Linked DNA regions of Homo sapiens. The protein of the gene in region 4 interacts with the protein of the main gene of each other region in a pairwise test. Each region holds a gene or a part of one and is shown on either strand. Other genes may lie near its edges.

Region 1 (3,500 bases), on a different chromosome or scaffold from region 4:
GCCTGCCTCCACTTAGAAGCTGAAAAAGCTAAATACTCACTTTCCCAGCCTCCCTTGCAGTTAGAAGTGGCCATGTGACACAGTCCTAGCCAATGAGACGTTAGGGGAAATCTGCTGGGGGGCTTCTGGGAAGGAGTTTCTTCCTGAATGAAAAAGACAGAACTTTGGGAGGAGAAAGCTTTTGGCCCTGGCCAAGTCCTGCTTGGGAGATTGATATGGTTTGGATATTTGTCCCCTCCAAATCTCATGTTGAAATGTGATCCCCAGCTGGGCACGGTGGCTCACACCTGTAATCCCAGCACTTTGGGAGGCCAACGCAGGTGGATCACAAGGTCAGGAGATTGAGACCGTCCTGGCTAACATGGTGAAACCCTGTCTCTACTAAAAATACAAAATATTAGCTGGGCATGGTGGCACGTGCCTGTAATCCCAGCTACTTAGGAGGCTGAGGCAGGAGAATGGCTTGAACCCAGGAGGCGGGGGTTGCAGTGAGCCGAGATTGCGCCACTGCACTCCAGACTGGGGGACAGAGCGAGACTCTGTCTCAAAAAAAAAAAAAAAAGTGTGATCCCCAAGGTTGGAGGTGGGGCCTGATGGGAAGTGCTTGGGTCATGGGGGTGGATCCCTCATGAATGTCTTGGTGCCTTCCCCATAGTAACAAGTGAATTCTCACTCTTTGAGTTGATGTGAGCTGGCTGTTTAAAGGAGCCTGGCTTCGCTCTCTTGCTCCCTCTCACCATGTGACATAGTGGCTCCCCTTCCCCTTCCACCATGGTCCTAAGCTTCCTGAGGCCCTCACCAGAAGCATAGGCTGGCAACATGCTTCCTGTACAGCCTGCAGAACTGTGAACCAAATAAACCTCTTTTCTTTATAAATCACCCAGTTTCAGGCATTCCTTTACAGCAATGCAAATGGACCAACACAGACATGATCCCTGGAGTTGCAACAGCCATCTTGGGACAATAAGACAGACATGAGAGGAACTACAGAGATTCCAGTCCTGATATTGCTAAGCCCACACGGGAACAGCCCACCTCCAGGCTTTTTGTTGCATGGATTCATAACATGAATGCTTTTACTATTTAAGGCACTTTTAATGTGGGTCTTCTGTTACTTGCAGCCAAAAGTATTCCTAATTGATAAATCTATGGAAACTAAGGGACTCCCTCTTTCACTGATGTGAGTTCTCAGGGCCATATCAGCATGGACTTCCAGAAGCCATCTTTGCTGCCAAGTAGCTGAGTCTGCCTGGGAATGAAGCCACCACAGTGGAAAGCAGATCAAAGTAATGACTGATGCCATCACTTGAGCCGCTGGATCCAGCCACGCCTGAGGCCATAATTCTGAACTGTCAGTTACTGGAACCAATAAATCAATACATTTTTCTTATTATTTTTTATTTTATTTATTTATTTATTTTGAGACAGAGTCTTGCTCTGTCGCCCAGTCTGGAGTGCAACGGTGCCACCTCGGCTCACTGCAACCTCTGCCTCCCAGGTTCAAGTGATTCTCCTGCCTCAGCCTCCCGAGTAGCTGGGATTACAGGCAAGTGCTACTGCTACCACGCCTGGCTAATTTTTGTATTTTTTAGTAGAGGTTGGGGGGGGTGGTTTCGCCATGTTGGCCAGGTTGGTCTCGAACTCCTGACCTCAGGTGATCCACCCGCCTAGGCCTCCCAAAGTGCTGGGATTACAGCTGTGAGCCACCGCACCTGCCTCTTCTTTTTTAAAATGTTGCTTCAGCTGGCTTGATTTGGATTTCTATCACTTGCAGCTGAAAGAATCTTGACTAACATACCTCCCCCATGTCTCATAAGCTAGCAAGTGGCAGAACACAAACCCAGTGTGTGGCTGCAAAGACCAAAATCTCCTAACCATCACCAGTTCCACCACTCAGCTCTCCAGCCCCTCCCGGCTCCCCCGCCCCCAACACACACACCCTGCCTCAAAGCTGGGCTTCAGTAAGAATGTATCCCCTAATTGGCCGGGTGCGGTGGCTCACACCTGTAATCCCAGCACTTTGGAAAGCCGAGGCAGGCGGATCACAATATCAAAAGATCGAGACCATCCTGGTCAACATGGTGAAACCCGATCTCTACTAAAAATACAAAAATTAGCCCGGCATGGTGGCGGGCACCTGTAATCCCAGCCACTCGGGAGGCTGAGGCAGGAGAATCACTTGAACCCAGGAGGCGGAGGTTGCAGTGAGCCGAGATCACGCCACTGCACTCCAGCCTGGCGACAGAGGGAGACTCCATCTCAAAACAAAACAAAATAAAACAAAAAAAACAATGTATCCCTCAATTGATGGAAGGTTGAAGGAAAGGCAGTAGGGGTCGAAGAGAGAGAGGGGAGACAAGGGAGGGTGGAGCGCAGGCTCTTACCTGGGAGGTCAGTAGATGGGGGAGTCAGTGACAAGGTGAACGGTGTCTGTGAGAATGGCTTCACACTGAGGGAAAAAGGAAGCCAGGGGTTAGCCAGGTAGAAAGATGCTAATGTCACCAGCAAATGTTTACTGAGAGGCCACAACAAGCAAGACCCTGTGCATTTTGTGCACAATCTCACTGAAGCCTCACAGTGCGTGAGGTAGGTAGAATGACTGCTCTTTTCATTGCACAAATGAGGACAACTGAGGTATAGAGGGGTCAACTGACCTGCCCAAAGTCACACAGTTGAGATGCAGCAGAGCTGGGACTTGAACCCAGGTCAGTCTCAGCCCGGTATCTCAGGCTCTTGATGATGACATTTTGGTATCTCTCACAAAATGTCAGAAAGAGAAGAGAAACCAGCCTGGCGTGGTGGCTCACACCTGTAATCCCAGCACTTCAGGAGGTTGAGGCGGGCAGATCACTTGAGGTCAGGAGTTCGAGACCAGCCTGGCCAACATGGTGAAATCCCATCTCTACTAAAAATACAAAAATTAGCAGAGTGTGGTGGTGCGCGCCTGTAATCCGAGCTATTCAGGGGGCTGGGCCAGGAGAACTGCTTGAACCCGGGAGGCAGATGTTGCAGTGAGCCGAGATTACGCCATTATACTCCTGGGTGACAGAGCAAGACTCCATTTCAAAAAAAAAATAAAAAGAAAGAGGAGAGAAGAGAAACCAAGTCTTGGAAGGCAGGGAGAAGACGCAGAAGACAAGGAATTTGGAGGAAGAAGAGGCTGAGGGGTTGGGAGGGTGGGAAGAAAATGACCAACACTCAGGAGATGGGACAGGAGGCCAAAGTCGGGGTGGGGAGGCAGCACTGGCCAATAGAACTTTCCAGGGATGGAAATGTTCTATTGGATGGAAATCTGTGCCATCCAATACGGTACCCAGTGCCCACATGTGGCTACTGACCACAGACCACGTGGCCACTGAGCACAAGTGTGGCTCATGGACCTGAGAAACAGAATCTTTAATTTTATTTAATTTTAATTTAAATAGCTGCATGAGGCTAGTGGCTACAGTATCAGTCACAGCCCTAGTAGCCCAAGAGATAGTGGTGAAGAGACTTAGATG
Region 2 (3,500 bases), on a different chromosome or scaffold from region 4:
ATCTACAGTGCACAGGTCTATGGACACTTAATTTATGTCAGCTGTGTATTTTTAATTAAAATGCTCCAAAAATAATGTCTTAATATGCTGTTCTTGACTTTAAAACTTTCAGACCACCTTGTATATATAACTGGGACTAAACGAGCTATCAGTAAGCATACATTTTTGGTTTCAAAACAGTAGTTAATTAAAATACTTTGAAGTTAGAACTTTTTTATTTTAGGTTCCTTAAGTATGATAAATCTAAAGCTCTTGATAACTCTGTAAGTAAGAGCGGTAACTATTATATTTTCAAGCCGTGGGAAATTACAGAGTCCCCAGAGAAATCCAGCAAGTTGGTACATAACAAGGAACGAAAGCAGGACTCCTAGTTGCAGTGTCTCATTTCGCTGCTGTGTGAGGAACTGTCTATAGGCTTCTATCTTTTTTCTTTGCCACTGAGTCAGTTTTACTTAAACTGTTGTGTGTGTGTCATTTTTATTACATTTGCCGTGCTTAAATGATCTCTATACCATCATTTACTTAGTAACGTATTTTTTTAAACCTTTCAACTTGTCCTAATTATTAGTATCTATAACACCTTTGTTGTCTTTCTTATATTTTTTCTAATTCACATTAAAACTAGTGTATAACTATTAAAATACAAAATGTTTGCACACCACCTAACACTTTGTGTAGCACTGGTGGCACACACCCCACACTGGGGGAAGTTGTGGACTACGTGAGCTTCAGTTCTTTCGCACAGTGTTGAATTCATGCTTGTGAACACCTACAGAGCTGGGAACTGAGGATGCGGCAGAAAATAAGCAGAAGTCTCTAGGCTGGTGTGGGAGAGTACACAGATCATGGCAGTACAAATGACTGCGATTTATGATGGGTGCCACAAAGGAAAAGTATAAGAGTTGCGAACCTATGGATATAAAAAACATGAAACAGGCCCAGTAGCTCCCGCCTGTAATCCCAGCACTTTGGGAGGCCAAGGTGGGTGGATTGCTTGAGCCAAGGAATCCGAGACCAGCCTGAGCAACATAGTTAGACCCCTGTCTCTAAAAAAAAAAAAAAAAAAAAAATACAAAAATTAGCCAGGCATGGTGGCATACTCCTGTAGTCCCAACTACTCAGGAGGGTAAGGTGGTAGGATCGCTTGAGCCCTGGAGGTTGAAGCTGCAGTGAGCCGTAATTGCACCACTGCCCTCCAGCCTGGCAGCCTGGGTGACAGAGCAGGATCCTGTCTGAAAAAAAAAAAAAAAAAAAAGAACAGGGGCTCTCAGGATATGTAATAGGAGTCTGATTTCTTTCTTTCTTTCCTTCTTTCTACAAATACTGAGCACCTGTGCACCAGGCACTATTCTAGGCCATTTGGTTATTAGCATACCCAAGGAAGTAATATTTCAACTGAATCCTATTGGTATGGCACCTAAACAACCTCCCCCCAACATTTTGTGTTCAAGAGCATTTTCATAAGCACTGTTGAAAGGAGACAAAGCAGTATGTGAGTCTGGTCTTTACTAAAAAGCAAATTTGAGTCACTTATAATGGATTCTTCATTACCAAATGATGGGAACCTAGTATTCAGGAAATAATGAGCTTACTTAAAAATGGTTAGGTCCCCACTTGTCTAGGCAAGTTAAAACTGCAGGCATTAGAGGTGTGTGAGCAAGAATCCTCTCTCCCCCTCAGGATGCCCAGGTTTCAGAGGAATCCATGCTTGCTTGGTTGTAGTTTCTAAGCACGATGTCCTGAAAGTCTGGCGTGAGACCCGAGGTGCTCGTGTCTTTTTACTTTAACTTCTGTGTGCTGGTGAGAGGAGAGAAGCAGCTGTTCTTCTCCAGGTGCTGCTAAGGCCTTAGTGGAAATAACGCCCATCAAGTTTTTATTAATGTTGAGCTGGCCACAGTCTAGGTCCTGGTGAGAGGCCTCTCTGCTGTGAGCCTTGGCTAGATGCGCTGAGGGGGCTCAGTGCATGTGTAGATGGATGTGTGTCTTGTTTATGCATGTAGATTTTGTTTTGTATTTATTCACATACATGGTGAGGAGATCGAGACCATCCTGGCCAACATGGTGAAACCCCATCTCTACTAAAAATTAGCTGGGTGTGGCGGCATGCGCCTGTAATCTCAGCTACTGGGGAGGCTGAGGCAGGAGAATTGCTTGAACCCGGGAAGCGGAGGTTGCAGTGAGCCGAGATTGCTCCACTGCACTCCAGCCTGGTGACAGAGCAAGGCTCCGTTTCAAAAAAAAAAAAAAAGTTAAACTTACACTTAACATATGACCCAGCAGTCCCACCCCTAAGTACATACCCAAGAGAAGTGAAAACTTACATTCACACAAACACTTGTACGCAAATGTTCACAGCAGCTTTATCCACTGTCCTCCCAAATTAGAAACCACCTGTCCTTCAACTGGTGAGTGAATAAACAAACTGGTGCATCCATACAATGGACCACCAATGGACGCAGCTATAAAAAGGAACAAATTATTAACACTAGGCCCTCACTTAATGTCATTGGTAGGTTCTTGAAGTGAAACAACACACACTGCAACTTGAAGTGAAACAACATACACTGAAGCCAGTTTTACCATAGGCTAATTGACATGAGTAAGAGTTAAGTTCCTACAGCATATTTCCGGTCCCCAAAACACCACCAGACTTTTAAATAAAGACCCAAAACAGGCCGGGTGCTGTGGCTCACGCCTGTAATCCCAGCACTTTGGGAAGCCGAGGCAGGCAGATCACCTGAGGTCAAGAGTTCGAGACCAGCCTGACCAACATGGAAACCCCGTCTCTACTACAAATATAAAAATTAGCTGGGCATGGTGGCAGGCGCTTGTAATCCCAGCTACTTGGGAGGTTGAGGCAGGAGAATCGCTTGAACCTGGGAGGCGGAGGTTGCAGTGAGCCGAGATTGTGCCACTGCACTCCAGCCTGGGCGACAGAGCGAGACTCCATCTCAAAAAAAAAAAAAAAAAAAAAAACCGAAACAAATGTGAGCTATACATTTATTTATTTATTTATTTATTTATTTTTTATTTTTTTTGAGACAGAGTCAGTCTGTCACCCAGGCTGGAGTGCAGTGGCGAGATCTCGGCACACTGCAAGCTCCGCCTCCTGGGTTCACACCATTCTCCTGCCTCAGCCTCCTGAGTAGCTGGAACTATAGGCACCCGCCACCACGCCCGGCTAATTTTTTGTATTTTTTTTAGTAGAGATAGGGTTTCACCATGTTAGCCAGGATGGTCTCGATCTCCTGACCTCATGATCCGCCTGCCTCGGCCTCCCAGAGTGCTAGGATTACAGGCGTGAGCCACCATGCCCAGCCAACATGAGCTATACATTTAAGAAAGATTAATAAAAGCAACATAATTATTTATCCAGTTTTTGGTGAATCCGTGCATGATGGTGGTCATAGTGGTGGCGGATTAAATCAAGAAGTATATGTTTACAAACAAAAATTATAAGGAGTACCTCCTACTACCATAAAGTTCAAAAACAAACAATA
Region 3 (3,213 bases), on a different chromosome or scaffold from region 4:
AACTGTCTGTACCTGCCTGACTGGAAAGTGCATGCTCCTTGCACAGCTTTGCGAGCCTTATGTGTGTCTGAATGCTGGCAGGTTTCTGAAGAATCGGACTGGGAGCTCATGGTTTAATTACTGCTTCACTTTATTTATTGAGCACCTACTGTGTGCCAGGCATAGCTGCAGACCCTGGGGATATAGCAGGGAATGAACAAATCCTGCTCTCCCTTTGGCAGCACAGGAGATTAGGCGGGGACAGAACCTGGAGGTCATGCTGTTCCTTCCCCACTTAGGTACCTGGTGTTGCCCTGCAGGGCCCTGGGCCTCCCCAGCTCTGCCCCAGGCTTGGCTAGAGAAGCCCAGGGAGAGGGGAGGGTGCCCGCAGCCCAGGTGGAACCAGGCTCCGATCAGCAGGGCAGGCCTAGTCAGAGCAGGGGCATCAGAAGGGAGGGGCTAGACCCTCCCTGAATTCCTCCAGCTGAGACCCACCCTCAAAACAGCCTCGGGGCCCAGGTCTAACAGGAGGTTTCCAGGGCTCCAACAAAGGGGAACCTGAGACCCGCCCCAGAGGCCCTTGGGGCAGCTTTGAGGTAGTGAGCGGGAGGGTGGAGGGACAGGTATATAGGGACAAGCACTGAGGCCTCAGCCGGGCACATACCACCCTGTGGGTCCACGTCCACACACCTGCGCCCGTGCCAGGTGTCTGCGTGTGCCCGTGCTTGCGGGGCTTGCACAGGTGGCTCTGGGCAGCATGCGCCCCGTGAGTGTCAGGAGCTGGCAGGGCTGCACTCTCGTGTCTGCACATGTATTACCCCAGGTGTATGTGGATGTCCGTGAACCCCATCTGTGTGCACATTGTGTCACCCACCCCACGACTCATGGCTGTTTCCACAGACGTGTGCTTGTGTGCACGTGTGCACCTGTGTTTGAGGATTGTGCCCACAGGCCCGTGGGTAAACGTGTGCCGTGTCCACGCGGGATAGACGTGTGTGCATGGCCCCCTGCGTGACATGGGGCTCACATGGAAGACGGGTGCTCTGTGTCTGTGTATACCCGAATTGAGGTGCCCAGCACTGTGGGCTCTCCCCATCTTGTCCTCCCCACCCCCATCCAGCCCACATGGGATTTCTCAGCTGAGCAGCAAGGCTTAGAATGAATAGCTCTGAATGGAGCAGGAGGCAGCTTCCACACCCCACCCCGGCCCTACACCGGCCAGGGGAGGTTCTTTCAGCCTCCCCTCTCCCCAGTGCCCACTCCAGGCCCGCTCAGCTGCCTTTCTGTGCACACCTCCCCGGTCAAGCAAAAATCACACACAGAGCATGAAATCCAGGCTGACAAGCTTCAGGGGCTGCAGGCCTCAGAACAGTTCAGCCCAACCCCACTGCGTAGACTGAGGCTCGCCTGTCTTAGGCCACACAAATGCATGACAGCAGCTCATTGGCAGGCCTTTCGGGCAGGGGCTGGAGAAGATCACCCCTCCCGGCCCCTCCCAAGTCAAGGGCCTCTGAGCGGTGGCCCCACCCTGGAGACAGCATGTCCGGTGGAAGAGCCAGGTATCTCTGAAGCCAGATGGACCTGGGTTCAATCCCAGCTCCACCCCTTACTCACACTGTGACCTTAGGCAAGCATCCTGGCCTCTGTGCCTGCCTTCTCAGCTGTACAATAGGATAGTGAATCCCACCGCAGGGGAGCATTGTGGAGCCGAAGCGAGGCAAGCTGAAATGAGCACTTACTAAGTGCCCAGTAAATGCTGGTGGCCTTCTTTGAGTTTCTTGAGTCTGGTTGGGGGATACAACTGAAAGGGTGGGGGTGAGCTGGTCCTTCTACCAGGAGGGGACCAGCCCCTGAGGGCAAGGGCTGAGCTGCTCCTACCCTGCTCCTCTCTTTCCCCCACATTCTGCCCCACAGCCCAGCCCTGGTGATGGACCTCCCTGAGTCAACCCCGTGCCTGTCTCCCCAGCTGCCCTGGGCCCCCTGGGTGTGCCAGGCCCAGGGTGCCTCCCAAGCCCTCGCCCCACCCCAGCGGCCAGCTCCCCCATTTGGAAAAGTTGGGGGCTCCAAGCAGGCCCCACCGACGGGACACTGTGAGGGGATGACCCTGGGCAGGCGGGGTGGGGCCTGGAACTGGGAAGCATGCGCAGGCACAGCCCCTGCTGCCTCCAGCGCTGACCCTTTCCCAACCACTCACAGGCTATGAGGCCCTGGCTGAGGCCTCATGCCCCACAGCGCTGCCACAGCAGCCATCTGAAGATGTGGTGTCCAGCGGCCCCGAGGACTGTGGCTTCTTCCCCAATGGAGCCTTTGACCACTGCCTGGGCCACATCCCCTCCATCTACACAGACACCTGAAGGAGCCCCCACATGCGCCTGCCCATCCAGCACTGCAGATGCCACCTCGCCCACCTGCTGTCGCTCCCACCCTCCGTGCACCTAGCAGGAGTGCCAGGCCACAGCCGGAACAGCCAGGCCATGACCCAGGGGAGCCAGCGCTGCCACCCCACCCAGCGCTGCCAGGGAGCCGCCATCCGAGCTTGAGCTGGGCGCACAGAGGTGCCCGCCAGGATCTGTGGCCCTGTAACATTCCCTCGATCTTGTCTTCCCGTTCCTCCCCGCAGTGGTTTTGAAATCACAGACCTCGTGTATATAAAATATGCAGAACTTGTTTTCCGTTCCCCTGCCAGTTTTATATTTTTGGTTTTACAAGAAAAAACATTAAAAACTGGAAAGGAGATGTGAAGTCCTCGTTCTGCTTTATGATTCAGCCCAGAGGCTGGGACCGGGAGAGCCTCGGAGGAGGGTGACAGAGCCAGGTGTTCAGGGCTAGGGAGGCTGCGTAGAAACCAGCTCAGGCCCTGGGTTCTGACCACGAGGATGGGAACCAGTGGCACGTGGCCCCCACCATGCGCTATGGTCCTTACAGACACCAGCGCTAGTCCCAGGACTGTGCAGTGAGGTAGGCCCATCCCCATGGACAGGTGGGCAAACTGAGGCTGGGAGGGTGCGGCGACGGGCTTCAGATCCCGGGCCCCACAGTCAGACCACAGTTGGGACCCAGCTCCGTCTGACCTGGGCCTCTACCTGCTACAGCGACTCCTCAGCGGGTGGGAGAACGAGCTTCAAATCTAGTGTCTGGGCTTCTGCAAACAGAGAAAACTGGGAGGGCAGGGCAAGCTTGCTGGGGATGGAGCCCAAACAGCCTCAAAAAGCCAGGGCAAAGGCTGGTCCCTGC
Region 4 (3,500 bases):
CTCACCTGTCTGGGCAATGCGGCCCACCAGGAGAGCAGTGTCAGTGGTGGAGGAGGAAGGCAGTGACCAAAGGTGAAAAAGCACAGGGCAGGCTGGGTCCAGTGGCTCACACATGTAATCCTGGCACTTTGGGAGGCCAAGGTGGGAGGACTGCTTGAGCCCAGGAGCTGGAGACCAACCTGGGCAACAGAGGCAGACGGCATTTCTAAAAGTAATTAAATAATTAACCAGGTGTGGAGGCACACCTATGGTCCCAGCTACTCCGGAGGCTGAGGTGGGAGAATCACTTAAACCCAGGAAGTAGAGGCTGCAGTGAGTCAAGGTCACACTACTGCACTCCAGCCTGGGAGTCAGAGCAAGACCCTGTTTAAAAAGCACAGGGAGGGGAAGCTCACTGAAAACTGGGTGTGCAGTGCTAAAGTGGCTGGAGGTGGGAGGCCTGGGTCCTTCCCCAGCTCTGGCACTGAGCGTGTGGTCTGAGCCTGTCACTTAACCTTGCTGAGTTTCAAGCTCCTGCACGGTACCAAGGGTCTAACACCCGCTACTGTCTACCTGACAGGCTTGCCTTGAGGATCACAGTGGTGCTGTGTGTGACAGCAGGCTCAATCTGTAATGCATGATATACTGATCAATTATCACCATTACTAATTAAAGATTTATAATAAGTTAGGCAAAAAAGGTTTAATGAGGCCAGGAGATAAGACCACGGAAAAATTACCAAACTGAACACAGAAACAGGTTGCTTGCTCCAAGTGACTCCTCTTTATTTTTTATTTATTTATTTGGGAGAGTCTCACTCTGTCACCTAGACTGGAGTGCAGTGGCTCAATCTCAGCTCACTGCAACCTCCACCTTGTAGATTCAAGTGATTCTCGTGCCTCAGCCACCCGAGTAACTGAGATTACAGGCGTGCACCACCACACTCGGTTAATTTTTGTATTTTTAGCAGAGATGGGGGTTTCACCCTGTTGCCTAGGCTGGTCTCGAACTCCTGATCTCAAGTGATCCACCTGCCTCAGCCTCCCAAAGAGCTGGGATAACAGGCGCGGGCTACCATGCCCAGCCGAGTGACTCCTCTTTAAATCAGTGTTTGAGAATGATGCTTAGAAAGTTAAAGTAGCTTTCTTTTAACTGTAAAGACAGAAAAACACAGAGAAGAAAAGCTTAAGTCTTTCCTCTCTGAAACGTGCCTGCAGCCAGGTGCCAGGTTGGTCAGTTCTGAGCAGCATCTGAGCCTCAAGATGCTGACTGCGGCTCAAACAGCAGGTCTGGGTTGACTCTGTGATCCTGTGTATGTCAAAGGCACCGATGCTTCCTGTCCTCCCCAACCTGCAAAACCTTTCTCTCAGCTAGAAAAACCGAACGCTGGGCCGGGCACGGTGGCTCACGCCTGTAATCCCAGCACTTTGGGAGGCTGAGGCAGGCAGATCACGAGGTCAGGAGATCGAGACCATCCTGGCCAACACGGTGAAACCCTGTGTCCACCAAATATACAAAAATTAGCTGGGTGTGGTGGCACGCACCTATAGTCCCAGCTACTAGGGAGGCTGAGGCAGGAGAATCGCTTGAACCCGGGAGGCGGAGGATGCAGTGAGCCGAGAACATGCCACTGCACTCCAGCTTGGCAACAGAGTGAGACTCTGTCTCAAAAAAAAAAAAAAAAAAAAAAAGCCCAACTCAACCCCACCTGCCTGGCTCACTCCTACTCCTAAAACCTCAGCCCAGAACCCCTCCCACAGAAGGACCTTCCTGACCTCCCCAATCTAAGGGACCATACATGTTCACTCCCAGCCCTTCCCACAGCACCACCACTGGCTGGTGTGCTTCCTCTTGAAGAATCTGATAGCACCACGAGGGCAGGAGCATCCTGTTTGGTTTACCCCCATCTACTCCCAGGCATGTGCACACAGGCCCACGCAACATCTGTTGAAAGACACAGGTAGTCACTCAGCACCGAATCTGCGTCCTCAGTTCCACACTGAGGACAAAGCCTGCCAGTGCCACCCCAAAGGTCTAAGGTGATAAAGGAGAACGAAGCCTCAGTCAACAGCAGCACCTTCTCTGAAGTTTAACATGCAGGTCTAAATGAAACGGGCCCAAGGGAGGTTCACACAGAACAAAAGTCGCAGAACTATGGCATATTATTCAGCTATAAAAAGGAAGGAAATCCTGTCATATGCAACAATAAAGATGTACCTCAAGAACATTATGCTAAGTGAAATAAGCCAAACACAAAAAGGAAATATTGTATGATTCCAGTTATGTGAGTTACCTCCAGCAGGCAAATTCATAGAGACAGAAAGAAGAGAGATTACCAGAAGAAAGGGGAACAGGGAATTTTTACTTAAGGGGTACAGTTTTTGTTTGGGATGATGAAAAAGTCTTATGTATAGACAGTGGTGATGTTTGCAGTAATGGTGCATTTAATGCCACTTAACTGAACTGTATACTTAAGAATGGTTAAAAGGATAAATATGTATATTTTTCCTCAATTTTTAAAAATGGGGAAAAAAGTCTCCTAACTACTCCTATTTAGCAAACTCGTGTTTGAACAATGGCTCCCTTTTTAAACATAGCTACACGGCTGGGTGCAGTGGCTCATGCCTGTAATCCTAGCACTTTGGGAGCTGGAGGCAGGAAGGCAGGAAGATCACTTGAGGTCAGGAGTTCAAGACCAGCCTGGCCAACATGGCAAAACCCTGTCTCTACTAAAAATGCAAAAATTAGCTGGAAATCGCTTGAACCTGGGAGGCGGGGGCTGCTGTGAGCCGAGGTCATTCCACTGCACTCCAGCCTAGGCAACAGAGCAAGTCTCCACCTCAAAAAGAAAAAAAATTTAAATAAATAAATAAACATAGCTACACAATGAGAAGACTGGACCTAGGGACTGGGTAGGATATAGCAGGGCAAAGTCTCCACGTGAAGTCCAAACCCTAGGGCAGCTGCACCTCCCCACCCCACTGGCCCTCCACCACACGGACACTGACTCACAGCAGAGCCACGCTCCTAGAGACACTTGGGGTGTTAAGCATCTGTGGGTGCCACAAACATTCAAATAGTAAAATCAACCAGGGCAGTCGAGACTGGACATTTCTATGTCGATGTCTGTTTATACCTGAGCAAAGAAATACTAAGTGGCCGTGTCCCTAGCCAGATCAGGAGTCCTGGTTTTTCTTTCTTTTTCCATTCCCCCCTCAACATTTGCTTATGAAAAATGTCAAACATACAAAAAGGTTGAGAGGATTATTCAGTGACATCCCTAAACCTACCACCTGGTTTTGTTTGGTACGGAGGGAGGGGGAGGACCCCACAAGCTGTTCTGATTTTTTCTCCATCTCCCACCATAGTGAGGCACTAGTCTAGGGATACCACAAGGGCTGTCCCTGTCTTAAGTGAATATGAAAAAATAGTACCTACGGATAAACTGTGTTCTTGCCTGAGTACTTTAGAAAGGATGAAACGTTCCTTCAGTTTCATAGAGAATGAAAGCATTTTTTCAG

What was found.
Region 1: the proteins of LATS2 (region 4) and TEAD2 come close enough for resonance energy transfer, tested with the Homo sapiens proteins (one large-scale study listed by BioGRID).
Region 2: the proteins of LATS2 (region 4) and KDELR2 come close enough for resonance energy transfer, tested with the Homo sapiens proteins (one large-scale study listed by BioGRID).
Region 3: the proteins of LATS2 (region 4) and GLIS1 come close enough for resonance energy transfer, tested with the Homo sapiens proteins (one large-scale study listed by BioGRID).

Annotation. Positions count from the first base shown.
Region 1 is NC_000019.10:49,348,917-49,352,416, forward strand, and holds part of TEAD2 (transcriptional enhancer factor TEF-4), read right to left. Parts: intron 2,450-3,500; coding exon 2,385-2,449; intron 144-2,384; coding exon of another isoform or gene 41-143; intron 1-40. UniProt on the Homo sapiens protein: Transcription factor which plays a key role in the Hippo signaling pathway, a pathway involved in organ size control and tumor suppression by restricting proliferation and promoting apoptosis.
Region 2 is NC_000007.14:6,470,653-6,474,152, reverse strand, and holds part of KDELR2 (ER lumen protein-retaining receptor 2), read left to right. Parts: intron 1-3,500. UniProt on the Homo sapiens protein: Membrane receptor that binds the K-D-E-L sequence motif in the C-terminal part of endoplasmic reticulum resident proteins and maintains their localization in that compartment by participating to their vesicle-mediated recycling back from the Golgi.
Region 3 is NC_000001.11:53,505,739-53,508,951, reverse strand, and holds the end of GLIS1 (zinc finger protein GLIS1), read left to right. Parts: intron 1-2,175; coding exon 2,176-2,333; 3' UTR 2,334-2,713; downstream 2,714-3,213. UniProt on the Homo sapiens protein: Acts both as a repressor and an activator of transcription. Binds to the consensus sequence 5'-GACCACCCAC-3'. By controlling the expression of genes involved in cell differentiation inhibits the lineage commitment of multipotent cells.
Region 4 is NC_000013.11:21,051,587-21,055,086, forward strand, and holds part of LATS2 (serine/threonine-protein kinase LATS2), read right to left. Parts: intron 1-3,500. UniProt on the Homo sapiens protein: Negative regulator of YAP1 in the Hippo signaling pathway that plays a pivotal role in organ size control and tumor suppression by restricting proliferation and promoting apoptosis.